Regions from separate parts of the Homo sapiens genome. Here regions 2, 3, 4 and 5 are each linked to region 1. The links come from fine-mapping of genetic effects on gene expression. A gene starts in region 1. Each other region holds a variant in brackets. All regions are shown on one strand. Distances are between the middles of the regions. Region 1 holds the start of CDKL1 (cyclin dependent kinase like 1). Region 2 overlaps CDKL1 (cyclin dependent kinase like 1). Region 3 overlaps CDKL1 (cyclin dependent kinase like 1). Region 4 has its middle 34 kb from the start of SAV1. Region 5 overlaps DMAC2L (distal membrane arm assembly component 2 like).

Region 1 (5,927 bases):
TGGCCTCTTTCCTTAGTAGCTAGGACCACAGGCACGCACCACCATGCCCAGCCTAGTACGTATTATGTGTTAGGAATATCACACAACTCTGAAAAGTTACAGCTTTAAAGAACAGACTCTACCTATAATCTAGTCCCACCATTTCATAGAGATCAGTGGTGTCTACATCTGTGCACTTAATTTGGAGAGTGGGGTGCTGCATGCTTTGAAATCAGGCTCATGTGTACACAACCCCATCCTTTGGAGGATATCAATATTCAGATAAGAGAACACATTTGACTTCCCCATTTATTGGCAACATCCACCTTTGTTAAGAGTTTATTTTGTTAACTTTTTTTTCCAATCCAACAATGACATTTTTTGGAGGCCTAGATGTGCCAACTAGTGTGCTTTGGGGATATAGAGCTACAGAGGCAAGGTCTCCATCCCAGAAGAACTCAATGAATTTGGGGAGCTATCACTGTTAATGTAGTATTGATAAAGTGTAGTGAGAGATTTGAAAGGAGCATTCACAAAAGTAATCTTCAGAATCAGAAAAAGAGTATCTTTCTGCAAGAAACAGATTTTCTTTCAGGTAAATGAACCCTTTGAAATGTAATGATCACCTCCTCCCCTGGGAAAGCCTGAGGAAGTGAAAATGCCCAACAGCCTCTCCCTGTGTACAGAGAGGGTAAGGGTAGGGTGACCCGGGCAGGGGGATGGTCAAAACACTGCAGGTCTCACCCCTGCCCATGGGAGCACTCCCCTGCGGGGCTTTGGAAGCATCTCCTCTCAATAGATAATATCCTGTTGGTTAAGAACATTCCAAACCTAAATAGAGAAGTTGCCCTGTTACCCACCCATTCCAATTTATCCAAAGCTTGCTACTTTCCATTTAGGTTCCTTATCTAGAAGTGACCCCACACACTTATCCATGGGCACAAGATTTGTAGAGTGATCTGGAGAAAATGGAGAAGCAAGAATAATAGTAAATCCCCTGGAAGTTTCATTCATCTGTCTCTCATCAAGTAGCTCTTCCCTTGTCACATAGTAGTTATACAGGTCAGAACAGAGAGGCCATAACTGAAACAAAGTTGACCTCCACCATATTCATTACATGTCACCTTTCACATTGCGATTTGGATTTTACCTTCACAGAAGTTCTGTAAAGTAGTCTCTCCATTAGCGAAAAACACACTTTCAGCTTGTAATAAATACCTTTCCCCCCTCTGATATCATGTTATTTTTAGGGTTAACTAATAAACATTTGAAAAGTGATCAGGCCAGGCTCGATGGATCATGCCTGTAATCCCACCACTTTAGGAGGCCAAGGTGGAAGGATCACTTAAGGCCAGGAACTCGAGACCAGCCTGGCCAACATAGCAAGATCCCATCTCTAAAAAATGTTAAAAAAAATTAGAAAGTGATCATTTCACTTCTTTAAGAAAAACGCTTCTTTTTAGAAACGGGACATGATGATGCTCAGCAGTAAATACATATGAGGTGTAATGAGAATCTGTGAGCTTCCTAGCAGTTTGAAAACAGGTAAATGTTAATTCTCTTAATAGACTGAGTATACCAATAGGAAATACCTTAGAAGTTTAAAAATCAACAATGCCAGCAAAATTGAATTGTCTTACATTCCTATACTATCAAATTGTAATGGTCCTTGAAAACCCAGGTCTACAGGTGGGAGAGAAATTATGGGGAAGAAAAATAAATATCCCACAGCATCTCTAAAAGTGAATGCCACCTTACCTGGCACTTTTGTCTCTGCTTTCTAGTTCATTATATAATTAGTGACTTGTGCACAGATATCCCATTTGTGTCACTGAAGTCAAAAGGCTATGAAGTAAGATATAACCATGTCCCATGACATTCTTTTAACATAACATGACTCACTTTATTTCTTTCATCCCTAAAAATTCACTTTAAAGAAAAAGTGGATCCCGGAGCAGTGGCTAGAACCTGTAATCCCAGCTACTCAGGAGGCTGAGGCAGAAGCATGGCTTGAGCCCAGGAGTTCCAGGCTGCTGTGAGCTATGATCACATGGCTGCACTCCAGCCTGGGAGACAGAGTGAAACCCTGTCTCGAAAAAGAAAAAAAAGGAAAAGTGAATCAATTACCTTGAGCATTCGGATTTCCCGAAGGGCAATTTTCTTTATGACAGGGTCATCTTCTGATTCCAGAAACTTCTTGATGGCCACAATCTGACCCGTGTCCCTGTTTCTACATTTGAAAACAACTCCATAGGATCCTTCTCCAATTTTCCCAATTTTTTCATACTTCTCCATCATAGAGGAATAAATCTTCTTAAAATGGATCTTCAGCCGAGAATGGTGGCTCACGCCTGTAATCCCAGCACTTTGGGAGGCTGAGGCGGGCAGATCACCTGAGGTCAGGAGTTCGAGACCAGTCTGGCCAACATACTGAAACTCCGTCTCTACTAAAGATACAAAAAATTAGCCGGGTGTGGTGATGGGCGCCCGTAGTCCCAGCAACTCAGGAGACTGAGGCAGGAGAATCGCGTGAACCTGGGAGGCGCAGGTTGCAGTGAGCCGAGATCGCGCCACTGCACTCCAGCCCGGGCGACAGAGCGAGATTCCGTCTCAAAAAAAAAAAAAAAAAAAAAAAAAAAAGAAAGAAAGAAAAGAAAAGAAAGGATCTTCACATAGTTTGAAAACGTCGCTTATAAAATATTGGCACCAACGGACTGCACTAGAGCCCCACCCAACGATGAGTGTTTGTCACGGTCCTAGAACAGAACAGCACATGTTAAGGAATGAAGAGTGTACCCGTGTCGGCAATGGCAACGCGATCAGGAGTAACAGCCTAGAGTTAGCTGCCTCCAGTAACCCGATTTTAATCGCCCGTTAAATACCCTGTAAGTTAAAATGTAACTTGCCATCCTAAAACGAGCCGAGCTGTAAGATAAGCTATCTTTTTAACGTTATCGTTCATCCGATCTAAGACACCTGAGCTGGCTGGAGTACGGGGAGGGCTAAGGGCTTCCCCGGTTCTAATTTCGGGTCTCATTTCCCTGCGGCAAGAAGACACCTCCCGGCTCCCCGCGGAGGCGGCGGCGAGGCTTGGCCGCAGGAGACCAACCCGCGCCCCGCGCCCCACGCCCCCGGGACTGGGAAAACCCTCCCGCGCCCGGACGTGCACCTCAGCCGCGCCGCGCAGCATGGAGCGGTGCCACGTGTTGGCCAGGGACGGCCCGCGCCTCCTTGCCCGCCCGGGACTCACGGCGCCGCGGCGGTCAGGGACGGGCCTGGCTCCCGCCTCGCCTTCTTCCGCCCAGCTCGGCTCGGCGTGGCTCGGCCCGCGATCCCTATGGGAACCGGCTCCCGCCCCGGGTCTGCCTGGGCGGGGCCGCCGCGCCCCAGCTTCCCACCCCCGGCCCGGCCCAGCCCGGCCGCCCTCCCGGCTGCAGGGAAAGGCCTCGGAGGGCCGCCCTCCGTCCATGGGAGCTGTCCTGACCGCGGGCCGAGTCCTGCTGCCGGGAGAGCAGACCTGCTAGATTTGCAAACTTCCGCAGGCCGTGCAAAGCGCAGCTGTAACCGCGTCTGCGGAGCAAGACGCCTGCGCTAGGAGCCCCTCCTGAGCGGTCCACATTTCCCTGCAACAGCAGTCCCCACACCTCAGAACCGCGGTTATTCCCTTTGGTCCCTTGGAGGCATCTTCTGTGTCTGTGCTGATCAGTGCTGCGGCGTCAGTGAATGAATGAGAGGGAGAAAGGAAAGAAGAGGAAGGCGTGACTGCAGAAATTGCTTAAAGTCAGCACTTTCCTCTACAGTAGGGAAGGTTCCACGGCAGTCTTCTGCTGTGGGACTTTTCTGGTGTGGGAGGTGGAAGCTTACAGAGTCTGCCTTAATTGTTTTTGGTTCCTTTCCCCCATCTTTCTCCCAACGGACTCCTACTGCTCAAATCTGAGCACACTGGCGGGAAGCGGATGGACCTGGGGAAATTATGAAATCATGTCAGTTGCCACTGGGCAGAGTGCCTCACACTTTATCATCCGTCCCGTTCCCAGTGCCAGCATCAATGCGGGTACTTGTCCTGGAAGCAGTACCCGAGGAGAGAAAATTAACACAGTGTCTATGAAACAGGGGCCAATCCCGTGTCAAGCAGCATGCTACTAAATGTAAACCCAGGAAGGGTTCAGAAAGGAGCCTGGAGCTGAGGAGAGAGGGCTGGTGGCTGCCCTGGAAACCCAGTACAAGGATGGCCTAGAGGTGGTCTGTGAACAGAAATTGTTTGCAAATGGCAACCATTGATCTGTTTTCTGTCTCTATAGTTTTGCCTTTTCCAGAATGTCATGAAAATGGAATCAGACCGTATGTAGCCTTTTGAGGATAGAGGATCTCCCCCACCACCCCAACTCCAGTGAGCTTTCAGATGAGATTGTAGCCCCAGATGACAATGTAAGTTCAATCTTGTGAGAGACCTTGAGCCAGGGGCACCCAGCTAAGCCATACTTGGGTTCCTGACCTCTAGAAACTGAAATATGTTTGCTATTATGTTTTGGGGTAATTTGTTATGCAACCATATGTATCTAACACAGAAGCCTTTTATTAATAGGAGGTTGAGAAAGTTCACTTTCATTCCTAGTTTGCTTAGTGTTTTTGTTTGCTTTTTAAAATTATGAATGGATGTTGAATTTTATCAAATGCATTTCTTCATCTAGAGGTGATCATTTCCTTTTCCTTTCTTTTCTTTTTTTTTTTTAATTGAGAGGGAGTCTCGCTCTGTCACCCAGGCTGGAGTGCAGTAGTGTTATCACTGCTCACTGTACCCTTGAACTCCTGGGCCTAAGCAATCCTCCCACTTCTGCCAGGCCTGAGTAGCTAGAATTATAGGTGTGCACCACCTAATTGTTTTTATGTAGTCTGTTGATACGGTGAATTATATTGATTTTTAGATGTTGAACCAACCTTTTGTTCCTGGGATAAACCCAACTTATTTATGATTTTATCATTTTAATGTATTGCTGGATTTGATTAGTAATATTTTATTGGAAATTTTTACATTCATGTTTTGAGAGATATTGATGTATAGTTTTCTTGTAATATCTGCTAATTTTGGCATCAGGATAATGCTGATCTCAGAAAATGAGTTGGGAAGTGTTTATCTTCCCTTTTATTTTCTAGAGATGTTTACATTAAATTGGTATTATTAATTCCTTAAATGTTTGGAAGAATTTTTTTTGTTTTTTTTTTTGAGACAGTCTTGCTCTGTCATCCAGGCTGGAGTGCAGTGGTGTGATCTTGGCTCACTGCAACCTCTGCCTCCCAGGCTCAGGCGATCCTCTTGCCTCAGCCTCCAAAGTAGGTGTGCCACCACGCCTGGCTAATTTTTGTGTTTTTTGTAGAGACAGGGTTTCACCATATTGCCTAGGCTGGTCTCCAACTACTGAGCTCAGATAATCTGCCTGCCTCAACCTCCCAAAGTGCTGGGATTACAGGCATGAGCCACTGCACCCCGCCTTCTAATATAAGCATTTAATGCCATAATTTTTCCTGTAAGCACCACTTTAAATACATCACAGAAATCTTAATATGTTGTATCATCATTTTCATTCAGTTCAAAATATTTTTTTTTTTTTTTTTTTTTTTGAGATGGAGTCTCACTCTGTCACCCAGGCTAGAGTGCAATAGTGTGATCTCGGCTCACTGCAACCTCCGCCTCCCAGGTTCAAGCGATTCTCCCACCTCAGCCTCCCAAGTAGCTGGAACTACAGGCATGCACCATCATGCCCAGCTAATTTTTGTATTTTTAGTACAGACAGGGTTTCATCATGTTGGCCAGGCTGGTCTTGAACTCCTGACCTCAAATGATGCTCCCGCATTGGCTCCCAAAGTGCTGGGATTATAGATGTGAGCCACCATGCCTGGCCCAAAAATATTTTCCTTGTGACTTCCTTTTTGACTCATGGGTTATTTTT
Region 2 (5,880 bases), 63 kb before region 1:
TTATATTAAAAAGGAAAAACATTCACATTAAAGAAGATTTAGAGAATATGAAAAGGGGAAAATCTACATGTTAACATTATTGGGAAGAAAACATAGATTTACAGGAGTTGAGAGCTTGCTGAGATCTTAGGGATCATTTAAGCCAATGCCTTGTCTTATAGCGGAGAAAACTGATAAACAGAGCACCTAGGCAATTTGCCTACTCACTCTCTTCCCTTAGTTAAAAAGGCAAATCAAGCATGGCACAGTGTACACTTGTAGTTCCAGCTACAAGGGAGGCTGAGTGGGAGCATCCCTTGAGCCCAGGAGAGCAGCCTGGGCAACATAGCAAGATCCCCATCTCTAAAGAAAAAAGACAAACTGCTTCCTTCAAGCTTCCTGAAAATGTTTGAATTTATTGTCAATGTCAAATGAAAGAACACACCTGTATTTTTTGTATTGCACTATATGTCCTTCGGTATCCCTAAAAAGGGAACTGTTTAGTACTTTTACTTTCTAGAAAAAAATTTTTCAGCCATTGTCCTCAGAAAAGTGCTTTTTAGTACTTTTAAATCAGTTGATTCTTTCAGGATTTAAAAGCAGTACACCAGGCCAGGTGCGGTGGCTCATGCCTGTAATCCCAGCACTTTGGGAGGCCAAGGCGGATGGATCACCTGAGGTCAGGAGTCGAGACCAGCCTGCCAACATGGCGAAACCCTGTCTCTACTAAAAATATAGAAATTAGTTAGGCATACTGGCACATGCCTGTAATCCCAGCTACTGGGGAGGCTGAGGCAGGAGACTCACTTGAACCTGGGAGGCAGAGGTTGCAGTGAGCCAAGATCATACCACTGCACTCTAGCCTGAGCGACAGAGTGAGACTCAGTCTCAAAAAAAATCAATACACCAAATAGTGGAGTTTCCCTATTTTTTCAAATAGAAATATTTCCATCAAAACCTTTTGCTCTCGAATACAAACTAATACTGAGATAAGGAATAATTCTGGCGTGGGGGTGGAGGAGTCTGTTTCTGGCCTGTTGTGCTACCTGGGTCACATATGATGGAGAATAAAACATTAATTTTGTAACTGTGATCTACATTAGGGCCCTGGAGTTCATGCTGTACTTGTTCCTCATGGACCTTTTTCACCCTTTTCCCTCCTCCCAGCCTCATACACAACACACCCTGGTACCATTCAGCATGCTGGGCAGTGGAAGCTGCAAAGAGAAAGACTAAGGCAAGATAATGTATAGCTTAAGGAGTACCTAGGTAGATCCTGAGGTTACCCAGGATCAGTTGTGGTTCCAACTACAGTTCATTCTAAATTATTACAGCTTTTGGCTTATCACAAGATGCTTAATGTAAGGCCATTTTATACCAATCAGGATTCTTCACAGTCTCCCAGTGTGCAGTTTGGATGCTGTTCTCTGGTTAAATGTATTCAGCTGATACCACCAAAAGCACTCATCACTGTATTTGCCCTAGCCAACTCTGACAAAGGATCAGGGAGGAAAACAGCTCCTTTTTTGGACAAACCTGGAGTGTTAGTTTTAATACTAAAAGTGTACATGATGACACAGAACTGCATGGGGAAAATCTGATTTCATTTTCCAAAGCCCAAAAAGTCTCCTTAGCTGGACTCATACTCATGTACCTTGTTGAGACCTGTGCTCATGCAGGCTGGAAACCCTGGCCCCTGTGTGGCATCAGGAAGCAGCAGGACAAGGGCACCTTTAGGATTCAGGGAGAGGGGGCTTCAGGAGACAGATGTCCCTGGGGCCCTGGTTGATAGATCCTATGACCTGTCTCCTAGTGCTGGAATGAGGATGCTGGAGCTGAAAGCCACAACTGCCATCCTCAAGTCTAGATTCCAACTCTCTGTACCAGGTGGCAGGTAGGAGATCATTTCAAATTATAACCTTGGATGTTTCTGTAAAGCAGTGGTGCTTTCGGCTCTTTCTTAGGGTCTTCCTTGTTGGTTTGTTGTGTTCTTTTGCCAAATCCTCTATTTCTCTGATGTTTTCAAAATATGGGTGATGCAACAGCTGTTCACATGTCAGCCTTT[G/C]AGTAGGGTCCATGTGGAGACAGCCCTAAAAGAACAGAAAATTCCTTCTTCTTACTTCTTCAAAATTGTATTAACTTATTAATGTCATTTTTTTCTTCTTTGAAAGATGAAACTTCAGTTGCAATAAGAAGGGGGAAAAGGCAGGAAAACACACCAGTCATGATTTTAGTTCCTTCCAGTCATTCCTAAATGGCACTCACATATTAAATAAATAGTTTCTAGAAGTAGTAATGAAAAATCATTTTCTCCACCTTATTCTGTTCTTGAAGCAATTGGTACTCTGCCCTGGGAGAGTAAGATATAATTTTAGAGTTTACCTCAGTGGCCAAATGGGGTAATCCATTTAGCCAGTTTGGTCCCTTGCATGTACTTTGTAAAAACTAGTGTTTTTATTTTAAAAATGATATTTACACATGATAACAAATACAGTTAATACAGCATACAGCAAAGTCTCCACCACTGTAGGTGTTCCCTTCACCCTTCTAAAATCAGCTACTTTTTTTTTTTTTTTTTTTTGGTGTATCCCTCCAGAAATAGTTGATGCATTATAAGTATATATGATCATGTATATAAGGAGAGGCATAACGTACATGCCTTTATATTACATCATTCTTAACTATTTTTGTTGCAACTAAGTAGGCCATGGAGCTCATTCTTGGATAGATTAGATTAAATTTCACAACTACATACTCCAAGGAATTGACTCAGTTTTTGTTGGTTATGTCAGAGGTGTTGAAACCACAGCAACACCATCTTGAATAGGGGCTGGGTAAAATAAGGCTGAGACCTACTGGGCTGCATTCCCAGGAGGTTTGGCATTGTTACTCACAGGATGAGATAGCAGGTCGGCACAAAATATAGGTCACAATGACCTGATGATAAAACAGGATGCAGTAAAGAAGCCGGCCAAAACCAAGATGGTGATGAAAGTGATGTCTGGTTGTCCTCACTCCTCGTTGTACACTAATTATAATGTGTTAGCATGCTAAAAGACACTTTCACCAGCACCATGACAGTCTACAAATACCCATAGCAATGCCCAGAAGTTACCCTAAATAGTCTAAAAAGGGGAGGAACCCTCAGTTCCAGAAAATCCCTGCCCTCTCCTGGAAAACTCATAAACCACCCCTTGTTTAGCATATAATCAAGAAATAACTGTAAGTATACTCAGTTGAGCAGCCCACAGCACTGCTGCCTATAGAGTAGCCATTCTTTTATTCCTTTACTTTGTTAATAAATTTGCTTCCACTTTACTGTGTGGACACGCCCTGAATTCTTTCTTGCATGAGGTCCAAGAACCTTCCTTTGGGGTCCGGATTGGGACCCCTTTCAGGTAACAGTTACATTATCATTTATATTAACTCATTATTTAATACATCAGTAAATAAATAATTTTTAAACCATGTGGGACATTGACTGTAACTTGCAAACATTTTAGTTGATACCATACCTCATTTTACATAAGAGCTATATTTCTAAATATATATATATATAAATATATATATCAAGTTTTTAAATGTACTTCAAATGTACCAGGGAGTTAGCTATTTAAAAGGATCCTGCAGCTAAGGATTTTCTGAAGAAAAAGTTCCCTTTGTAAAACAATCACCACCCCCCTGAAATTTCTGTTTTGTGTAAATTTAGACTTCAAATATAATGTTAGGTTTATTTAAAGTGGAAAATACTTGCAAATGTTTTCTTAATAGGATGTGATCCATTTAAAAAAATTGAAAATATACTTTTCCAAGGAGAATTTTTTTTTTTTTTGAGACGGAGTCTTACTCTGTCACCCAAGCTGGAGTGCAGTCGTGCAATCTCAACTCACTGCAACCTCCGCCTCCCAGGCTCAAGCAATTCTCCCGCCTCACCCTCCTGAGTAGTCGGGATTACAGGCGAGCGCCACCACGCCTAATTTTTTTTATTTTTAGTAGAGACGGTTTCACCATGTTGACCAGGCTGGTTTTGAACTGACCTCAGGTGATCTGCCTGCCTTGGCCTCCCAAAGTGCTAGGATTACAGGTGTGAGCCACTGCCCAGCCAGGAGAAGAATTCTAAAAGGAACACTTTTCATTGCATGGATTGACATAAGTAATTCAGATTCCCCAGTGATGACAACTGCTGTGTGCTTCCTGGTCTGTTGGAAGCCATGATTTTTACCTTTAGGAGCCCCAGGGCAGGATAAGAGATGTTTGGGAATTTTAATTCAAGTGGTTCCTGTTGAAAAGAAAAGAGGTTTTTAATTTACAGCATGTATTCAAATTAAGGTTACCTCAAATTAAATCTTTTGATAGAAACATTTTCCTGGCACCTTCCTCACGTCCTCCACCCTTTGCCCACCCAACCTCCTGCCCAAAACAGTCTCCCTTTGCCTTTTTCACAAGCTTTCTCTCCCCACCTCCAAATCGCTTTTCCAAATTTGCTTCGTAACTACTCCCTTAACTTCCTGCTCTGATACCAATGGAGATAGCAAATTATAAATAAAAATACTAATGAAAAAAAACTTTTCTGAGCAGTTTTTTTTTTGAGGGGGTGGGGGGGCTCAAGTTATATAACTTGCCTTTCCTGAGAATAATTTTTGGCATTTATAGTGTGATTTATAAAAAGGTAGCTGGCTGGGTGCGGTGGCTCATGCCTATAATCCACTCAGGCCAAGTCTGATGGCTTGAGCCCAGGAATTTGAGACCAGCCTGGGCAACATGATGAAACCCTGTCTGTCTCTCTAAAAAAAATACCAAAAAACTAGCTGGGGGTGGTGGTGTGCGCCTCTAGTACTAGCTACTTGGGAGGCTAAGGCGGGAGGATGGCGTGGGTTTGGGAGATTGAGGCTGCAGTAAGCCATAAATGTGCCACTGCACTCCAGCATGGGCGACAGAGCAAGACCCTGTCTCAAAAAAAAAAAAAAAAAAAAAAAAAGGCAGCTCTAATTCTAATTATATAAAGGGAGCTGCAAAATAGATGTTTTTCCCCTACCCAGGTGAACAGATGCTTCTTGATTTTCTGGAATAAACACTGTTGTCTCCTCCCACTAGGGCCTGCTGCTTCCCTTCTCAGCCTGCTGTTTAAACAGTCTCCTGTGGGGCATTCGTCAATCTCCTTTTGGCCGTATAAGGCGATTTTGCGCCAGTCACGTGCTGGAGACAATCAGGAATAACACTATAAATGGGAGGAATGCCGAATGTCAGGCAGACAAACAGGCCAGTTAAAGAGACATACCACTGACAAAGGCTAATTGAGCAGAGAGGCTGAGAAAATAAGAGCCAGCCAAGCTGAGCAAAATAAGTGACTGCAGTGCATTGTGTGTATAAAAGTGGCAGTGTGTGAGCTGCCGACTGGAGTGACTGGCCAGGCTCATCTAATCAAACAGTCCTGGTGCTGTGGCCAGCTTTCACAGTACAGTATTATTTTGGACAGGCAACCAGCTCCCAATAACCAATTCTGGATTGTACACATACTAATCATTGATAAGAGTAGGAGAGAAGAGCCTCTGTTTCAGAGTTCCCTATGTCAACAGGAGAAAAAAAAAATCCTAAAGTAGGTTTGTATTAGCCCTTGACAGTAGCCCCTGTTGCACCCTCATACTTCCACTCATGCTCCATAGCTTAAATATTTCTCTTGTTCTTTCTGTCGGTTGAATCTGAGCATCACTGGGGTTTGACGTGCCATTGCTATATCATCGAGCTCTGCTGTCTCAGCAACAATGTCTGGATGAGGCCAACTGGTTGCCTGTGATACGCTGGAGCCCATCTGTGAGCGTTTCACAGCCCCAGAAGCAAGCAGGCCTCCCTCTGTCAGGGTTACTGACAGGCAGAGGGACTGGGGCACAGATGTTCAACCAG
Region 3 (5,927 bases), 49 kb before region 1:
CCTCCCAAAGTCCTGGGATTACATGCAGGAGCCACCATGCCTGGCACTAGTTTCTTAAAATCATAAAAATGCATGTTTTATATAACCTGAGCAAGAAGGAATAGCTAGGTTGGCATTTTTAGCCTATACTTACCCAACCAGGCTTATGAAGATTTGGGTAAAAAATTTTACCCACAGAAGTGTGACATAAACTTTGTACAAGGCTCCACCTCAGCTTAAGGGGAGCCTTGTTGCTTTTCAAAAGAGATCATGAGACTTACATTGTGTTTATGGCAAAAATTTACAGCTTGCAGTGTCTGCCAAGTTATGCTCTTCACGAGATGTTCTGGTACCCTAATAAAAATAAAGCAGCACAAACACATTCTTTAGTGTAGCCATGGAATTCAGCTCAAGAAAAGAAAAAATAAACGAAGATAGGCTTTAGTAGTGAAAAATCTTAGGTGACACATAGTCATCTTACTCATCAATCATTCCATGAATCCAAAATGTAAAAATATGCGACCAGCACACCGCTGAAGTCTAGGGAGAACAGGTTAACAAAAATGCAAACATCTACTTCTTTGGTAAGGACATGAAAACCTACAGGGATTTCAACAAGTATTTATAACCACCTATCTCAAACATCTGTGACACCACTGGGAAACTGCCTGGTAACTTAAGCTCCATTTTCACAAGGAATTTTTTATTGATGTAAAGTTAAGTTACTATTCAGCACAAAAGATGCTGTTTATTTTCTCAAGTTGCCCCAAACAGACAGCCTTGAAGCAGGACTCATCTTCCATGTGTGGGCATGTGGTCTCTCAGAGCAGCATTGCTGTTGTTTGTTTGGTTTTTTAGATAATGAAGACTTTACTGATTATAGCAAAGAGCTTTACATTGCAAACCATTCTATTTGTTTTTTAGCATCCCAGATCTGCCCTACCAGGGTCTTGATGCAGTCTCTCTTGCTCCCCCATCGTAAATTGTTATTAAATGTTAATAATAATTTAAAAACCTGAGGCATCCTGGTTCTTTCCCTATGCTGCCATGGCAGCCAGCTGCAGCCCAGGTACATCTTTCTACTCTCTCCTCCATCACCACAGCTAAACTTCAAGCCACTGCTCCCAGTACTTCTTCCCTGACTCACATCTTTTATTACCAGGGCAACCAGTAGTTCCAGCAGGTACTTTGTGTGAATTAGAAAGAGGCATCTCGCCTGGAAACATTTAAAACAACAACAAACCAAGGCAGGGAGTGTAAGAAACGAACCACAGAGAGAGTGCATTTATTTTCTGAGACCCCAACCCACTGGCTGGACTTACTGTTTTGATAAACATTCCACAGTGTTGCTGTGGTCCTCAGCCAAAACGAATAAGTAAATCAGGGAGGAAGCTCTTGAGTAGCTGTGTTAAGGGGACTACAAAAAGTCACTTGTAGCCTCTGAGAGAGGCTACAAGGCCACTGTTGTCACAGGCCAGACGTTCAGGAAATCCTTTCAAGCAGATCAGGGGGTGTTTGAACAGAGAGTGGGATCACATGAAGGAAAGGAAGAGGCCACTTCCAGGAAGGCTAGTTGGGACATTGCTGGACCAGGTCTATGTCCCTGTGTTTGAAGTTGCTTCTCTCCAAATTCTCTTTTCCTTGTTTGAGCGGCATATAGGCATAGATGCTAGAAAAAGTCACTGTCGAGAAAAAAGGCTTAGAAAAATGCAACTAAGATGAGACATTAGGGGGAATGCTTTTCCCCAGCCTCCACTTTTAATTTTTTTTTTTTAGGGTCAGGGTCTTGCTGTGCTGCCCAGGCTGGAGGCAGTGGTGCTATCATAGCTCACTGAACTTTGGACTCCTGGACTTAAGGGATCCTCCTGCCTCAGCCTTCCCAGTAGCCTCTACATTTTGTCCAGAAAAATGGAATATATTTTGATTATTCAATAAATTAAATTTTTGGTTTTTTTTTTTTTTTTGAGATGGAGTCTTGCTCTGTCACCCAGGCTAAAGTGCAGTGGTACAATCTCAGCTCACTGCAAACTCTGCCTCCCAGGTTCAAGCGATTCTCCTGCCTCAGCCTCCAGTAGCTGGGATTACAGGTGTGTGCCACCACACTCAGCTAATTTTTGTATTTTTAGTAGAGACAGAGTTTCACCATGTTGACCAGGCTGGTCTCAAACCCCAGACCTCAAGTGATACGCCCACCTCAGCCTCCCAAAGTGCTGGGATTACAGGTGTGAACCACCATGCCCGGCCTGCAAATTAAGTATTAATATAGGGTTACCAGTACCAGGCAACTTTAGTTCCTACAAACATTTCCCCAAATAAATTATATAAAAGGAGCATATAAAAGTAAATTATAGTTGCATATCATTATTGCTCCTTTAATCCCCAGCACAGCTAATCCCCAGAATTACAAAACTCTCAAATGTAAAAACTCTGTACAAACTACTTAGTGCCATCTTGAACTGGCTACTCACTTCACTTCTTTACTCAGTTTCTTTTCTGTAATGCAGAGGCCTCAGACTCTGAGATCCCTTTTAGCTGAAACACTCATAATAAGAG[G/A]GGCCAGTTTTTCACTGTTGGAGAAGGGAGTTACAACTATAAAAAGGGGAAAAATAGATAGAATATATTCTGTGGTGTTGGATTTAGAGAGAGAGAGAGAGAGACAGCGTGAGAGTGCTGTGCTAGAAGGGGTTGATCACCTTATATAGGATGGCCCAGAAAGGTTCTCTGGTTAAGGGAACATCTAAAATAGTGGTTAAGTGGTGAGAAGTGGCCAGATTTGGGCTATATTTTTAAAATAGAGCTTCCAGGATTTTCTGAGGGATTGGATGTGGGAGAAAGAGAAGAATCAAGGAATGACATCAGGTTTTTAGCTTGAGTAACTGGTACACAGTGGTGCCTTTTACTCAGGAGAACACTGGAGGGGAAACTGGTTTGGGGGAAGGGAATGCTTACTGGACACCCAAAGGAAGACTGTGAGTCAGCAATTCTACATTCAGAAGGAAGGTCAGGCTGGAAATATGAGTTTGAGAAGCATAGCATATGGGTGGTATTTGGGGCCTAGGACTGAATGAAGCCAATTAAGGAGTGAATCCAGCTAAAGAAGAGGAGCTCGGAAGGAAGCTGTGAGACCCTTCCCCACAGAGGAGCAGAAAGAGGAAGGGGACCCCACAAGGGCACCTGAGTTGAGAGCATCAAGTGAATAAGACAACACTCAGGAGAATACAGTATCACAGGACCAACTGAAGAAAGTGTGTCAAAGGACTTCTGAATTAAGATGATGGATTAAGCAAGCCCAGCTAATTTTGTTCCCTCCTGAAACCTGACTAGAACTACGCTGAAGACTTCTAAAGACAAAACCTCACAAGGTCAGAGAGGACAGGAGAAGAGATAACAGCAACACAATGTGGAATCCAGAAAGCAACTGAATGAAAGATAATTAACTTAACAATCCTAGAAAGCGAAAATCTAAGCCAGGAGAGGGAAGGTGGAGAACCAACCAATTCATCCAGAAAGAATCCTCAAAAGGCTCGGGAAGTAGCAGCCAAAGTCTCTATGGAACTAGGAGCTAAGGAGTATGGAAAAAACTGTTTAGAAAATAATTAAATCCCTAGATCCCCTCCTCTATCATTTGCCCATAGGGAAACACTCTCCACTACTGGGCAGAAGGCTGGAGCTTTGTTTCTGGAAAGGATAAAGCAGAGGACATTTGGCATACGTGAGATTGTGGATACCGTTCTGAAAATGTGGATACTGTTCTGAAAACAGGGGATTAAAGGACTGTACACATACAAAATGCTGAATGCTGGGATTCCCCACCCCTCTTCCCTCACTAGACTCTGGGAAACCCGGCAGGCAGACTTCACTCTCCAGGCACAATATTCAAAGACTTTTTTGGGAGAAGCTCAGAGGGAAAGCTCTGAAGATTCTGACACTGGGGTTCCACCAGCAAATGGCCCAGCTAGAAAACCATAGTGAAGCTCAGAGCTTCCAGTAGTTCCTTGTTCTTAACTATGAGCATATAACCAGAGACTATATGATGCCCAAGAAAAGCCTCTAATAAGAAAGTAGAAGACCAGAACAAACAGAAAAAAGCAACTTAAAAGAAACAGAAATTATGGAGGATGAAGAGAACATTTTTAAATACCATTAATATCCTCAGAGAGAACAGGAAAGCTGTTGTATCCATGAAATAAGAACAGGATACTACAAGAAAATGGGAGGACCAGTTCAAGAGTCCACATCCCAATAATAGAGGGTACAGAAAAAGAAAATAGGTAAAACAATGAACAGGAAGTCAATAACAAAACAATTCAAAAATTTTTTTCTGAGGCAGAAAAGGCCCAGCAAGTGCCAGGATAATGGATGAAAATCAAGACACACTCATGAGTTTCATAATCAAAAACACTGAGCACAAAGAGAATCTCCTACAAGTTTCTGGAAAAAGAAACAGGACTTCACAAGAGAGCAGAAAATAGAATGGCATCAGGCTTCTTGGCACTAGAAGATAGAAGACACTAAAATAATGACTTCAAAAATTTGAAGGAATATTATCTTCAACCAAAAACCAATAAACAAGCCTATATCCAAACAAAATACCAAACCAGTGTGAGGATAGAATAAAGCATGTGAGGGCAAGGTCTCAACCTCTTATTTGTTCCTGTACCTCTCATCTGCTCTTTCTCAGGAAGCCCCTCATGGATGCAGTCCACCAGAAAGGAGCAGTCCATTATCAAAGAAGATTATGTGGGCTGGAGACCCAATGCAGGAGGGAAGCAGCAGGAGTTTCTGGGAGGATGGCAGAGGGAGATGACGGGATAACTGCACTCCAGGTGGCAAAAGCAACCCATCCTGACAGGACAGTGTGACCCAAGAGCCATGCACAGTAAGGGGTATCATCGCCATGCCCTCTGCCTCATGCAATCTTAAATAAATATGAATATATTCAACAAACTTAACAGCTCTGGAAGAGTCTGGGTGACTGGCTGGACCCTTCAGGCTAAGGCAGATGTTTTGATGTTCTTTGTTCTTCTCTCTTGTCTTTTTGTTGTTGTTGTTGTTGTTGTTTGTTTTTTGTTTTGTTTTTTTGAGACGTTGTCTCCCTCTGTCACCCAGGCTGGAGTGCAGTGGTGCTATCTTGGCTCACTGCAACTTTCTCCTTCTGGGTTCAAGCAATTCTCCTGCCTCAGCCGCCCAAGTAGCTGGGATTACAGGCACACACCACCACACCCAGCTAATTTTTGTATTTTTAGTAGAGATGGGGTTTCGCCACGTTGGCCATGGTTGGCCAGGCTGGGCTCGAACGCCTGACCTCAGGTAATCTGCCTGCCTTGGCCTCCCAAAGTGCTGGGATTACAGGTGTGAGCCACCGTGCTTGGCCAATACTTTTTTTGCAGAAATGGGGGTCTTGCTGTGTTGCCCAGGCTGGTCATGAACTCCTGGGTTCAAGTGATTCTCCTGCCTTGGCCTCCCAAAACACTGGGATTATAGACATGAGCCACTATGCCTGGCCTAAGGAAGATGTTCTTAAAATTGTAGCCCGTGCTAGCAAGGCTAGGGAACTCATTCCACCTTAAGATATTTGTTTCCACATTGGTGGTAAATAGTGGTTGTGGCTGAGCTCTAGGGCAGAGTGGGGAAGGGCTAGAACAGGTATGAAGAAAAGGGGCTCAATTCCTTCTCATTCTTTACTCCCTTTAATAGCTCTTCTAGCTCAAAAGCAAGCTCTCCTTTCAGAGCAATCATACATAAGCTCAACCTTAATCTATGAGAGAAGAAGGGGCTTGAGCTTTTCTCCTGGGCCTGGTTCTTCTCTGCCATGGGATTAGGTGATTGAACTTTAGACGAGCCATATATATCCCCAGCTTTTCTTCCTAGTAAATAGTACTCCAAGGGAGCTGGACAGGATCCAACTTGGGCCTTTTGGACTCCCAGCCAGCTGGGCCTGGTCTGGT
Region 4 (5,927 bases), 310 kb after region 1:
ACTATGGGGTTCTGTAGTTATTGAATCATGTTGTCTGCAACAGAGATAGTTTGACTTCCTCTCTTCCTATTTGGATGCCCTCTATTACTTTCTATTGCCTGATTGCTCTGACTAGGACTTCCAATACTATGTTGAATAGGAGGGGTGAAGGAGGGCATCCTTGCCTTGTGCAGGTTTTTAAGAGGAATGCTTCCAGCTTTTGCCCATTCGGTATAATGTTGGCTGTGGGTTTTTCATAGATGGCTCTTATTATTTTGAGGTATGTTCCTTGAATACCTAGTTTATTGAGTTTTTAATATGAAGTGGTGTTGAATTTTATCAAAAGCCTTTTCTGTGTCTATTGAGATAATCATGTGGGTTTTGTTTATGTGATGAATCACATTTATTGATTTGTGTGTTTTGAACCAAACTTGCATCCTGAGGATGGAGCCTACCTGATTATGATGTATTTGCTTTTGGATGTGCTGCTGGATTTGGTTTGCCAGTATTTCATTGAGGATTTTTACATCAATGTTCATCAAGGATATTGGCCCGAAATTTTCTTTGTTGTTGTTGTTGTTGTTGTTGTATCTCTGCCTGGTTTTGGTATCAGGATGATGCTGGCCTCATAGAATGAGTTGGGGAAGAGAACCCCCTCCTGAATTTTTTTGAAATAGTTTCTGTAGGAATGGTACCAGCTCTTCTTTCTACATCTAGTAGAATTCAGCTATGAATCTATCAGGTCCTGGGCTTTGTTTGGTTGGTAGGCTATTACTGATGCCATTTCAGAGCTCATGATCGGTCTGTTCAGGAAATCAGTTTCTTCCTGGTTCAGTCTTGGAGGGTGTATGTGTCCAAGAATGTATCCATCTCTTCCAGGTTTTCTAGTTTGTGTGCATAGAGGTGTTTATAGTAGTTTGATGGTTATTTCTATTTCTGTGGGGTCAGTGGTAATATTCCCTTCATCATTTCTAATTGTGTTTATTCAGATCTTCTCTCTTTTCTTTATTAATATAGCAAGTGGCCTATCTGTCTTACTAACTTTTCAAAAAACCGCCTCCTGGATTCATTAGTTGATCTTTTGAATGTTTTTTTGGTATCTTGATTTCCTCCAGTTCAGCTCTGATTTTGGTTATTTCTTGTCTCCTGCTAGCTTTGGGGTTGATTTGTTCTTCTCTTATTCTGTCAGTTGTAATGTTAGATTGTAAATTTGAGATGTTTCTAACTTTTTTTTTTTTTTTGAGACGGAGTTTCGTTCTTGTTGCCCAGGCTGGAGTGCAAACAGCATGATCTCGGCTCACCGCAACCTCCACCTCCGGGGTTCAAGTGATTCTCCTACCTCAGCCTTCCGAGGAGCTGGGATTACAGGCATGTTCCACCACGTCCAGCTAATTTCGTATTTTTAGTAGAGATAGGGTTTCTCCATGTTGGCAAGGCTGGTCTGGAACTCCTGATCTTAGGTGATCCACCTGCCTCAGCCTCCCGAAGCGCTGTGATTACAGGCATGAGCCACTGTGCCCAGCCGAGATGTTTCTAACTTTTTGATGTGGGCATTTAGTGCTGTGAATTTCCCTCTTAACACTGCCTTAGCTGTGACCCAGAGATTCTGTTATGTTATATCTTTGTTCTCATTAGTTTCAAAGACTTCTTGATTTCTGCCTTAATTTCATTATTTACCCAAAAGTCATTTAGGATCATGCTTCATTTCCATAAAATTGCATGGTTTTGAGCGATATTCTTAGTCTTGTGTTTTTATTGCACTGTGTTCCAAAAGTGTTTGGTATGACTTTGGTTCTTTTGCTTTTGCTGAGGATTGTTTTATGTCCAATTATGTGGTCAATTTGAGGAGAATGTATATTGTGTTTTGGGGTGGAGAGTTCTGTAGAGGTCTATCAGATCCATTTGGTCCAATGTTGAGTTAAGGTCTGAATATCTTTACTAATTTTCTGCCTTGATCTGTCTAATACTGTCAGTGGAGTGTTGAAGTCTTCTACTATAATTGTGTGGGAGTCTGTCTCTTTATAGGTCTCTAATAACTTGCTTTATGAATCTGGGTGCTCCTGTGTTGAGTGAATGTATATTTAGGATAGTTGTGTCTTCCTGTTGAATTGTACCCTTTACCATTATGTATCACCAGTGAAGCCTGCAATATAGCAAAGATAGTAGCCTGCCTTTCCCTCTGAAAGTTCTGCTCCAGGGAATTAGGGACCTGTTGCCAGCCCAAGCAGACCTGTAGGAGGTGGCTGGAGACCCTGGTTGGGACATTGCTCCCAGTGAGGAGGAATGGGATCTGAGACTCAGTTAAAGTAGTCTGGGCTGGACACAATGGCTCATGTCTGTAATCCCAGCACTTTGGGAGGCTGAGGCAGGCAGATCACTTGAGCCCAGGAGTTTGACACCAGCCTAGGCAACATGGTGAAACCCGCCTCTACAACAAAAAATGCAAAAATTAGACAGGCATGGTGGTGTGTCTATAGTTTAGCTACTTGGGAGGCTACGACAGGAGAATCACTTGAGCCCAAGAGGCAGAGGTTGCAGTGAGCTGAGATAGAGCCATTGCTCAGTTTGGGCAATGGGAGTGAAACCCTGTTTCAGAGGCAATCTGGCTACATTTTGGTAGAGCGGTTGTGCTGTGCTGGGGGTCTCCTTCAGTGCCGGACACTCCAAAGCTCAAAGGCCAGAATAGCTAAGTGACCCAAACAGCGAAGATGATGGCCTGCACCTCCATCTGGGAGCTCCAGCCTGGGGAGGCTTGAAACTTCTCTCAGCTGAAGAACACTCGTGGGGATAGCTTCAGACCCTTCCTGGTGATCAGGAGTAGGATCAGGGACCTGCTTGAAAAAGCAGTCTGGCTGTGTTTTGGTAGGGCAGCTGTGCTGTGCTGGGGATCCACTTCAGCCCCTGGTCATCTTGGACTCTCCAAAGTCCAAAGGCTAGAATAGCTAAGTTACCCAAACAGTAAAGATGGTGGCCCACCCTTCCCTCTGGGATTTCTGTCCCAGGAAGTTTTCAAATCTGTGTTTGCCAGACAGCACTGGTGGGGGTGGCTGGAGGCCCCAGTTGAGAATTCCTGCCCAGTGAGGAGGAACAGAATTGGGGAC[C/T]GGCTTAAAAAAGCAGTCTGGCCATGTTTCACAGGGCAGCTGTACTGTGCCGGGGTACTGCTTCTGCCTGGTCAGAGGTTGACTTGGACTCTCCAAAGCCTAAAGACTAGAAATACTATCACCCAAACAGCAAAGATAGCAGCCCACCCCTCCCGCTGGGAGCTCCATCCCAGGGAGGCTCCAAATCTCTGTTGGCTGGAGAACATGGGCGCAGGTGGCTGGAGGCTCTGGTGATCCTGCCCAGTGAGGAGGGATTGGGGACCTGCTTAAAAGAGCAGTCTGACCACGTTTTATAAAGCAGCTGTGCTGGGGCATCCCTTCCGCCCCTGGTCAGCTTAGACTCTCCAAAGCTTGGAGGCTGGAACGGCTAAGTTGCCCAAACAGCAAAGATGGCAGCCCACCCTTCCCTGCTGGAGTTTTATCCCAGGGAGGTGCAATGCTGCTACCAGTGGCTGTCTGGAGTTCTAAGCCAGTGGGTCTTCATCTTGTGAGGTTTGTGGAAGTGGGGCCTGCAGATTGTCACTGCTCAGCCCCCTGGATTCAGCCTTTTTCCTAAGGATATGTACAGAGGTCAAACCTCCCGCTTTGCTGGAGTTGCAACTACTTTTGCTGGGAAGTCTGGAGAGTCCGAGTATCAAGGCTTTCCTGGGTCTCCACATGTGCCTGAGTGGCTGTTCTGTTGAGACTCCATGTAGCTGTGTGTGTCAGTCAGAAGGCCCTGGTGGAGTGGGTTCACAAGGAGATCTCCTGACCCAAGGATTGCAAAGATCCATGGGAGAAGCATGGGTTCCTGGGGTTGTACATTCATGTGCCACTACCCAGGGTCGGGGGAGGTTCCCTTGGCTCCATGTTGCTCCTGGGTGGGCCATCATCCTGCCTTACTTTTCTCCATCCTCCATGGGTCAAGTTGCTTCCTTGATTAGTCCCAATGTGAGTAACTAGATGTTTAAGTTGAAGGTGCTGTATTTACTTGCTCTTTCTGTTCCTCTCCATGAGAGCTACGTATATTACCTGCTTCTAGTCAACCATCTTGGCCACCTCCAGCACCTAGGATCCTTTAAAATGTATTGAAACTTGTTTTATACCCCCGAACGTGGCTGATCTTTGTTAATTTTCCATGTGTTCTTAAAAAGAATGTGTATTCTGCTGCTGCTGTTGAGTGGAATGTTTTATAACAAGTTTGTTGTCAATGTTCAATTCTTCTACATCTGTGGTAGGCAAATTAAATATCACACAAAGATTTCCATGTCTGAATCTTTAGAAGTTGTGAGTATGTTATTTCAGTTGACAAAAGGGATTTTGCAGACATGATTCAGGTTAAGGAAACTTAGATGGATATTTAGATGAAGCCTAGGTTGTCCAGGTGGGTCCAGTCTAATCACATGAGTTTTTTTGTTTTTGATTTTGTTTTAACCTATGAGTCTGCCTTTTTATTGCAAGACAACAGGTAGAAGAAACCACACAAACATATAAGGCAAACACTCTTAGAACGATCATCCAGGTTATGAAATAGAAGTTTTCCAGCAATCCCAGACTCTTCATGTACACCTTCTTCACTTTAACCTGTCCCACTATAGAGATTAGTTTTAGTTTTCTATATCATCTAACTAGTTTAATAATTCCATCAGAGATGGATCAGTTTAAAAATTGGAATCTGTTACATAGAAGCTATCCGCATTGGATAGAGCAGGGCTCAGCAGACCCTACGTTTGAATGACTAAGTTGACTTGCTCAGATTGTCCTGGGAGGGAAGACACAAATGCAAGAAGTGTCTCCATAGTACTGCTTTGCTTTTATCATTGTCATCTCAGCCATCGCCTCTGGAGGCCTGTGAAATTGGAGCAGCCAGCCCTGGAAGTGGTGCCCAAAGCCTGTCTCACTGGCTTCATCTTTTGGAGGGGTGGGCAACAGCATTTGTCAGAAATCTTGACAGCTGAGGATCCTTTTCCTCTGAGCTAGAGGTCTTGGCTGGGCTCCAGGGGAGGCTTGAGCTGCCCCACGGAGACCATGGTGCTGAGCTGTCCCGAGGCACAGCTTGCAGGTGGGAAGGCGACCAAGTCTGAGTCCTTGTTCTCACTCTGATCACTGTGCTGCTGCTTGTGGCATCTCAGAGTCATCCCTGACAAAGGCGGCGCCGCAGGTCTCACAGCGAAAGGCCCTCTGCCTCACGATCTTGGCCACGTGTCGGGAGCTGCTCTGTGAGCCCTTCCTTGCCCGGAGAGGCCCAGTTCTCTGTCTTGGCCTCATCCTTGTGCACCCTGTCGATGCGCTTGGCCAGGCTGCTGGGCCACTTCGCGTCGGAGCTGCAGAAGTCACACTTGAAGTTTCAGTCCTTACAGTGGACTCCGCTGTGTATGCACAGGGCGGCTGCGCTGGAGCAGGAGTTGCACTCAGGACACTTCTCTGGGTGGTCGGCCTGGTGCAGCCAGCTATGCTCCAGGAAGTCAGCCCATCCTGGCCCTGGAAGGCACAGTGCAGACACTTGAAGGTGTGCTTGATGCGGATGTGCGATTTGAGATTCGCCTTCATGGTGCAGCGGACGTCGCTGCAGAACTCGCACTCGAAAGGCTTCTCCCCCAGTGCACGATCATGTGCCTTTTCAAGTCTGAGCTGATTTTGAACTTGGCGCTACAGAGCCAGCACTGGAAGGAGATATCCCCAGTGTGGGATCGCAGGTGGACGGTGAGCTGGCTGGAGTTGCGGCTGACATAGGGGCAGAGCTGGCATTTGTATGGCTGCTCGTCCGAGTGGATCCGTAGGTGCTTCTTGAGGCTCCTGCTGTCCACGGCAGCATAGTCACACAGGTAACACTCGTGCGGCATCACATGTGCATGGTCAGGTTGTCCT
Region 5 (5,801 bases), 70 kb before region 1:
CTCCCAAGTAGCTGGGACTACAGGTGTGCACTACCACGCCAGGGTAATTTTTCTATTTTTAGTAGAGACAAGGTTTTGCCGTGTTGACCAGGCTGGTCTTGAATTCCCGACCTCAGGTGATCCACCCGCCTCAGCCTCCCAAAGTGCTGGGATTACAGGTGTGAGCCACTGGGCCTGGCCCTATGTGGGCATTTCTTTCCTCCAGTGTGTGGGCATCTGACTGCGGAATGGTCCTGTCCATCAGCACAAGCTCTATAGTGAATTCCTTATATGGTTAATAGGGTGAGCAGTCATTCCAGTTTTCATGGAACTAAGAGGTTTCCCAGGACATAGGACTTTCAGTCCTAAAACCAAGTCAGTCGTGGGCAAACCAGGACAGTTTGTCATCTTAGTGGTAAAGCAGATTCTTAATCTGTACTTTTTCTCCCCAGAGGGCCTAGAGCATGTTGAAAAAATAAGGCTGTGCAAGTGTCATTATATCGAGGATGACTGTTTGCTGAGACTTAGTCAACTTGAAAATTTACAAAAAACCATATTGGAAATGGAAATAATATCCTGTGGGAATATCACAGACAAAGGCATCATTGCTTTGCGTCATTTAAGGTAGATGATCAAAGCCAAAGTGGAAACTTGATAATGCTGTTAAGGTGAATAGTTAGAATTTAATTGACTGTGAGGGGTGGTGTCTTTTTTTAGTTCTAAAAAAGATAATTTTAAAAAATGACCTCACTTTCATCTGTAATATTTTAAAACAGCTAAAATGATCAACCTTAATACATTAATGTTGTATTGAATTTTTTATAGAGTATATTTTAAAAAATTAAATCTACATTAAGCACCTAGCATGGTGCCTGCCACAGTAAGCCCTCAGTAAGCATCAACGATTATGCTTTCTCTCCTTTTTTTTTAAAGCAGTTTCTCCTATGGTTTTAATATTTTCAAGACATTTGGTATATACCTATTAGCATTTTACTGTGTAATTATTTTGCTTGAGGGGAGAAAAACCTTGAAATATTCACCTTTCTGTCTCTAGAGCCTAGAACACTGCCTGACACTGTAATAATCATCAAAAGCATGCATCCACTGGTTAGGAAAGCTGTTCTACATCCTCTTGTGCCACCAACCAGACCCACGCCATGGCCTGGAGCAAGTCACCTAATCCCAAATGCAAAAACAGATAATACTAGCAAGGAATGTTTAATTCTAAAATTTGTAAGATTCTGAGTCTCATCGGCGTGATGAAAAAAGAATAGAAGTTTTTTTGTTTGTTTGTTTTTTTGAGACGGAGTCTTGCTTTTGTTGCCCAGGTTGGAGTGCAGTGGCATGATCTTGGCTCACTACAACTTCCGCTTCCTGGGTTCAAGCGATTCTCCTGCCTCAGCCTCCTGAGTAGCTGGGATTAAAGGCGTGCACCACCACGCCCGGCTAATGTTTGTATTTTCAGTAGAGATGGGGTTTCGCCATGTTGGCCAAGCTGGTCTCGAACTCCTGAACTCATGATCCGCCCGCCTCGGCCTCCCAAAGTGCTGGGATTACAGGCGTGAGCCACCGTGCCCGGCCTAGAAGTTTGTTTAATCAAATCCCTGTGTTAGAGATCTCAACATTCAAATTATGTATCTAATTAATGTAGTTCTGCTTTAATATATAATGGATCTGCCAGTAACCTCAGTATCACAGGAAGTTTAAGAAATTTTAAACATTAGGACCAAAAGTACTAGATTGTTCATCTCTTACATTACTTGAAGCTTCAAAGCTTCATCTTTTAGTAGAAACTCTAGTATCTAAGAATTTTCCCAGCTTTTGCCCTTTTGGGGTTGAGATTCACATTTCATGTTTCACATGCAAAGAATATCTACATCATTATAAATATATATTTTATTTAGAATGATTCAGCTAGAAATATTGATGTAACCCAAAGTCTGTGTTACTTCCTGGCATGAATTTCATCTCTAAGGCTACTGCTCTAAAAGTAATTTTGAAGGCATAGGGTGATATAGATTCATTTTCTACATAATTTTCTTTCTTTAAGTCAGTAAATTGAATTTATTTTTAATGCTCTTGGCCAAATTGAAGTGACTTTTTTCTTTATTTGCAGAAACCTCAAATATTTGTTGTTAAGTGATCTTCCTGGAGTAAGAGAAAAAGAAAATCTTGTCCAAGCCTTTAAGACAGCACTGCCTTCTCTGGAACTAAAATTACAATTGAAGTAAAATAATGTGTCTTATTTCAGTATAAAGGATCATTTGAAACTGTTGATTCCAAACATCAACTAATATTATATAGTCATCAGTAGAATTATAAGGATGCCATATCATGACATTTTAGAAGTGGAGAGTGCATCATATGTAGAAAATAAATATTCAGACGTGGCTCATTAATGTTACTAAGTTGGAAGTGAGAATTTATGAACATTAATTCATTTTAAGAAAAGTGCAGCCAGGCGCAGTGGCTCATGCCTGTAATCCTAGCACTTTGGGAGGCCAAAGCGGGCAGATCACCTGAGGTCAGGAGTTCAAGACCAACCATGGCCAACATGGTGAAACCCCATCTCTACTAAAAAAACAAAATTAGCTGAATGTGGTGGTGCACGCCTTTAATCCCAGCTACTCTGGAGGCTGAGGCAGGAGAATCACTTGACTTGGGAGGTGGAGGTTGCAGGGACCCGAGATTGTGCCACTGCACTCCAGCCTGGGTGACAGAGCGAGACTGTCTCAAAAAAAAAAAAAAAAGAAAAATGTAAACTAGGTAACATTTTAATTCTAATATATTCATTTAATATGTAAATCTATAGATATCTCTTGATGTAGATATTTAGAATCCTTTAAAGTTATTTGTACAACAGATGTTTTTATTATAACAGTAATTTACATTTAACTTTAAAGTTAGTGAAGCATACTACCATAAATGCACAATTATGAAAAATTAGAAGCTAAATTACAGATTCATTGATGGAGTCAATTATGCAAAGTGGTCAGTGGTTGTTGAAGCATGCATTGCTTCAACAGGATTTGCGTGCATTTCCCATGATCCTGCATTCTTGTGTTCTTGATAGCATACAGACTTACTCAGAATCAACAGTTGCTGCTTAATTTGTCTATTTTGTAAGCTTAGGCTACTATTTTATTAAAACTGGACATAGATACTTGGCTGAA[T/A]ACAAATAGTTTTGCAGATTGCAATATAATAAAGGAAACAGTAAAAACTAGTGGGCTATGCTTAGGTTTTTCTTGAAACCTAACATTGCTTTAGGCTGGGTGCCGTGGCTCGTGCCTGTAATCCCAGTGCTTTGGGAGGCTGAGGTGGGAGGATCACTTGAGACCAGGAGTTTGAGACCAATTTGGGCAACACAGTGAGACCCCATCTCTAAAAAAATTTTAAAAATTAGGCAGGCATGGTGGTGCATACCTGTAATCTCAGATACTTGGGAGGTTGAGGTGGTAGGATTGCTTGAGCTCAGGAGTTTGAGGCTGCAGTAAGCTATGATCACGGCCACTGCACACCAGCCTGGTAGCCTGGGTGAAAGGGGGAGACCCTGTCTCTTAAAAAAAAGGGCTGGCCTGTAATCCCAGCACTTTTGAAGGCCAAGGCAGGCAGATCATTTGAGCCCAGGAGTTCAGGACGAGCCTGGGCAACATGGCAAAACCCTGTCTCTACCAAAAAATTAAAAAATAAAAAATAGCTGGGTGTAGTGGCACATGCCTGTAGTCCCAACTACTCAGGAGTCTGAGGTAGGAGGATCAGTTGAGCCCGGGAAGTCGAGGCTGCAGTGAGCCATGTTGGCACCACTGCACTCCAGCCTGGGCAACAGATTAAGACCCTGTCTCAAAAAAAAAAAAAAAAGTGAAAAATAGATAAAACAGGTCTTCATTGTTACCTGTGAGAAATGGCCCTGATTCTATTACTCTTATATGCCAGTTTGTTTATAGATTTCTGTGTGTTTGATTTGAACTTTTTTTTTTTTTTTTTTTTTTTTGAGACAGACTCTCACTCTGTTGCCCAGGTTGGAGTGCAGTGGTGTGATCTCAGTTCACTGCAACCTCTGCCTCCCGGGTTCAAGCAGTTCTCTGTCGCAGCGTCCCAGGTAGCTGGGATTACAGGCGCCCACCACCACGCCCAGCTAATTTTTGTACTTTTAGTAGAGACAGGGTTTCACCATCTTGGCCAGACTGGTCTTGAACTCCTAACCTCAGGATCCACCCGCCTCGGCCTCCCAAAGTGCTGGGAGCCACCGCGCCCAGCCTGGTTTGAACATTATTAAGCTGTTGAATATAAACTTGAAAATAATTTTCTATGATACAGCTTTCAGGTAGAAAAATGAATTTTCGTTGTGTTTAACAATGTTGTGTTTAACAGCTTATACAAATAACACAGTATAAATGGTAATTGCCACTGTCATTTTAAAAATCAGAAAATAGTAAATAAAAGGATGTGGAAGAGTCTCATGTGATACAGTGGAGATTTCATACCGAATAAAAGCATTATAAATATGGTTAAATTGAACATAAGCATAAATTTAACGGAACTCATTAGAAAAAAATAAGCCTTTTTTCTCAGGTTTGTTTCATTACTGTATGGTGAGACAACTGATTCACCACGATTTAGTCTAGAGCTACTTTTCTATTCTGAATAGTTTTTGGTAAAACTATTGGCTGAATTATTAGGCTGTTATAGTAATCTGCCTCCGTCAAGTGTATTTTCTTGGGTTAAGGAAAAAAAAATTTTTTTTTAACTATTCACGGAAGCTGGATGTTCTTCCTTGTCATTTGAATCAAGGCCGTCTAACAGGAATTGAATAATTCAGGGACTAGCATTTAACCCATATCAGGTCTAGGCAAGAAAAGACATACATTAGGAAGCCTTAGGATATCATTAAACTGCCTAGGGTAGTCAAAATTATTGAGTAGACACCAGACCTCAGTGGATTACTTAAGTAAATGGGGTCAGATGTCATCATGAAGAAAATTAACAGGAAGAAAATGAGAGTACAGAAGAAATGTTTTGAAAATAGAGTGAAATACAACTTTGAAGACCATGGCTGAGAAGTGCTAGGAATAGTGGCAGCACATCAACCAGAAATGGTGTTGAGCTGTAAGAAACAGACGTCAGGCTTCATATTGCCCTTGTGTCCAGGGGACAAGGATGAAAAAGCTTTTTGATTAAGAGCAGTAGACCAAATCAAAGCTAATTATGTCATTTTGGCCAGGCGCAGTGGCTCATGCCTGTAATGCCAGCACTTTGGAAGGCCAAGGCGCTCAGATCACGTGAGCCCAGGAGTTCAAGACCAGCCTGGGGAACATGGCAAAACCCTGCCTCTACCAAAAAATACAAAAAAATTAGCCAGTATAGTGGCACATGCCTGCAGTCCCAGCTACTTGGGAGGCTGAGGTGGCAGGTTTTATATATATATATAAAAAACACATATATATATATGTGTGTGTGTGTCATCATTTTAAGTCTCACTGTGCAAAGCTATGAGTCCTCAATACTTTGGACTACTTAGTGTAATATATTAGTTGTTAGAATAGCATATATATATATATATATATATATATACATACACATACATACACATACAAACATAGTGCAAAAAGATGTTTCAGGGAAAACATCAGTTTACAACATAATGTCTTTCATGACTCAAGTAAAAGCTCACAAGTAATTTCTTCTGAAACCCAGATCACTGAATTACAGGTTTGCCTATAGATGTACCAGGTCAAAGGCTGTGCCAGAGAGAATGAAATACTAATTATTTTCAGGCTGATAGGTTCAGTTCCTGCAAAGCCTGTAGGTCTTGCTCTACCCTT

Evidence for each region. PIP is the estimated chance that this variant, and not a neighbour inherited with it, causes the effect.
Region 2: its variant is the best candidate, but not a certain one, in a credible set for the expression of CDKL1 in whole blood (TOPMed, PIP 0.85).
Region 3: its variant is the best candidate, but not a certain one, in a credible set for the expression of CDKL1 in whole blood (INTERVAL, PIP 0.50).
Region 4: its variant is the best candidate, but not a certain one, in a credible set for the expression of CDKL1 in unexposed skin (GTEx, PIP 0.53).
Region 5: its variant is the best candidate, but not a certain one, in a credible set for the expression of CDKL1 in whole blood (INTERVAL, PIP 0.64).

Annotation. Positions count from the first base shown.
Region 1 is chr14:50,393,595-50,399,521 of GRCh38, forward strand. It overlaps CDKL1 (cyclin dependent kinase like 1), which reads right to left and starts at 3,287. Exons shown (of 10, transcript NM_004196.7): 1 at 3,230-3,287; 2 at 2,107-2,735. The coding sequence starts at 2,274. RefSeq lists silencers at 2,991-3,440, 3,380-3,605 and an enhancer at 3,199-3,698.
Region 2 is chr14:50,330,364-50,336,243 of GRCh38, forward strand. It overlaps CDKL1 (cyclin dependent kinase like 1), which reads right to left. Exons shown (of 10, transcript NM_004196.7): 8 at 4,202-4,258; 9 at 1,899-2,069. Among named protein-coding and RNA genes, the nearest start is that of DMAC2L, 21 kb to the left of the region's middle. RefSeq lists an enhancer at 5,180-5,801. The variant G/C (reference allele first, on the strand shown) is at 2,045.
Region 3 is chr14:50,344,726-50,350,652 of GRCh38, forward strand. It overlaps CDKL1 (cyclin dependent kinase like 1), which reads right to left. Exons shown (of 10, transcript NM_004196.7): 4 at 261-333. Among named protein-coding and RNA genes, the nearest start is that of DMAC2L, 35 kb to the left of the region's middle. RefSeq lists an enhancer at 2,786-3,080. The variant G/A (reference allele first, on the strand shown) is at 2,533.
Region 4 is chr14:50,699,321-50,705,247 of GRCh38, forward strand. It overlaps the pseudogene ZFP64P1. Among named protein-coding and RNA genes, the nearest start is that of SAV1, 34 kb to the left of the region's middle. The variant C/T (reference allele first, on the strand shown) is at 3,081.
Region 5 is chr14:50,323,514-50,329,314 of GRCh38, forward strand. It overlaps DMAC2L (distal membrane arm assembly component 2 like), which reads left to right. Exons shown (of 6, transcript NM_001382507.1): 5 at 432-603; 6 at 2,096-4,444. The coding sequence ends at 2,210. It overlaps CDKL1 (cyclin dependent kinase like 1), which reads right to left. Exons shown (of 10, transcript NM_004196.7): 10 at 2,752-5,801. Among named protein-coding and RNA genes, the nearest start is that of DMAC2L, 14 kb to the left of the region's middle. The variant T/A (reference allele first, on the strand shown) is at 3,153.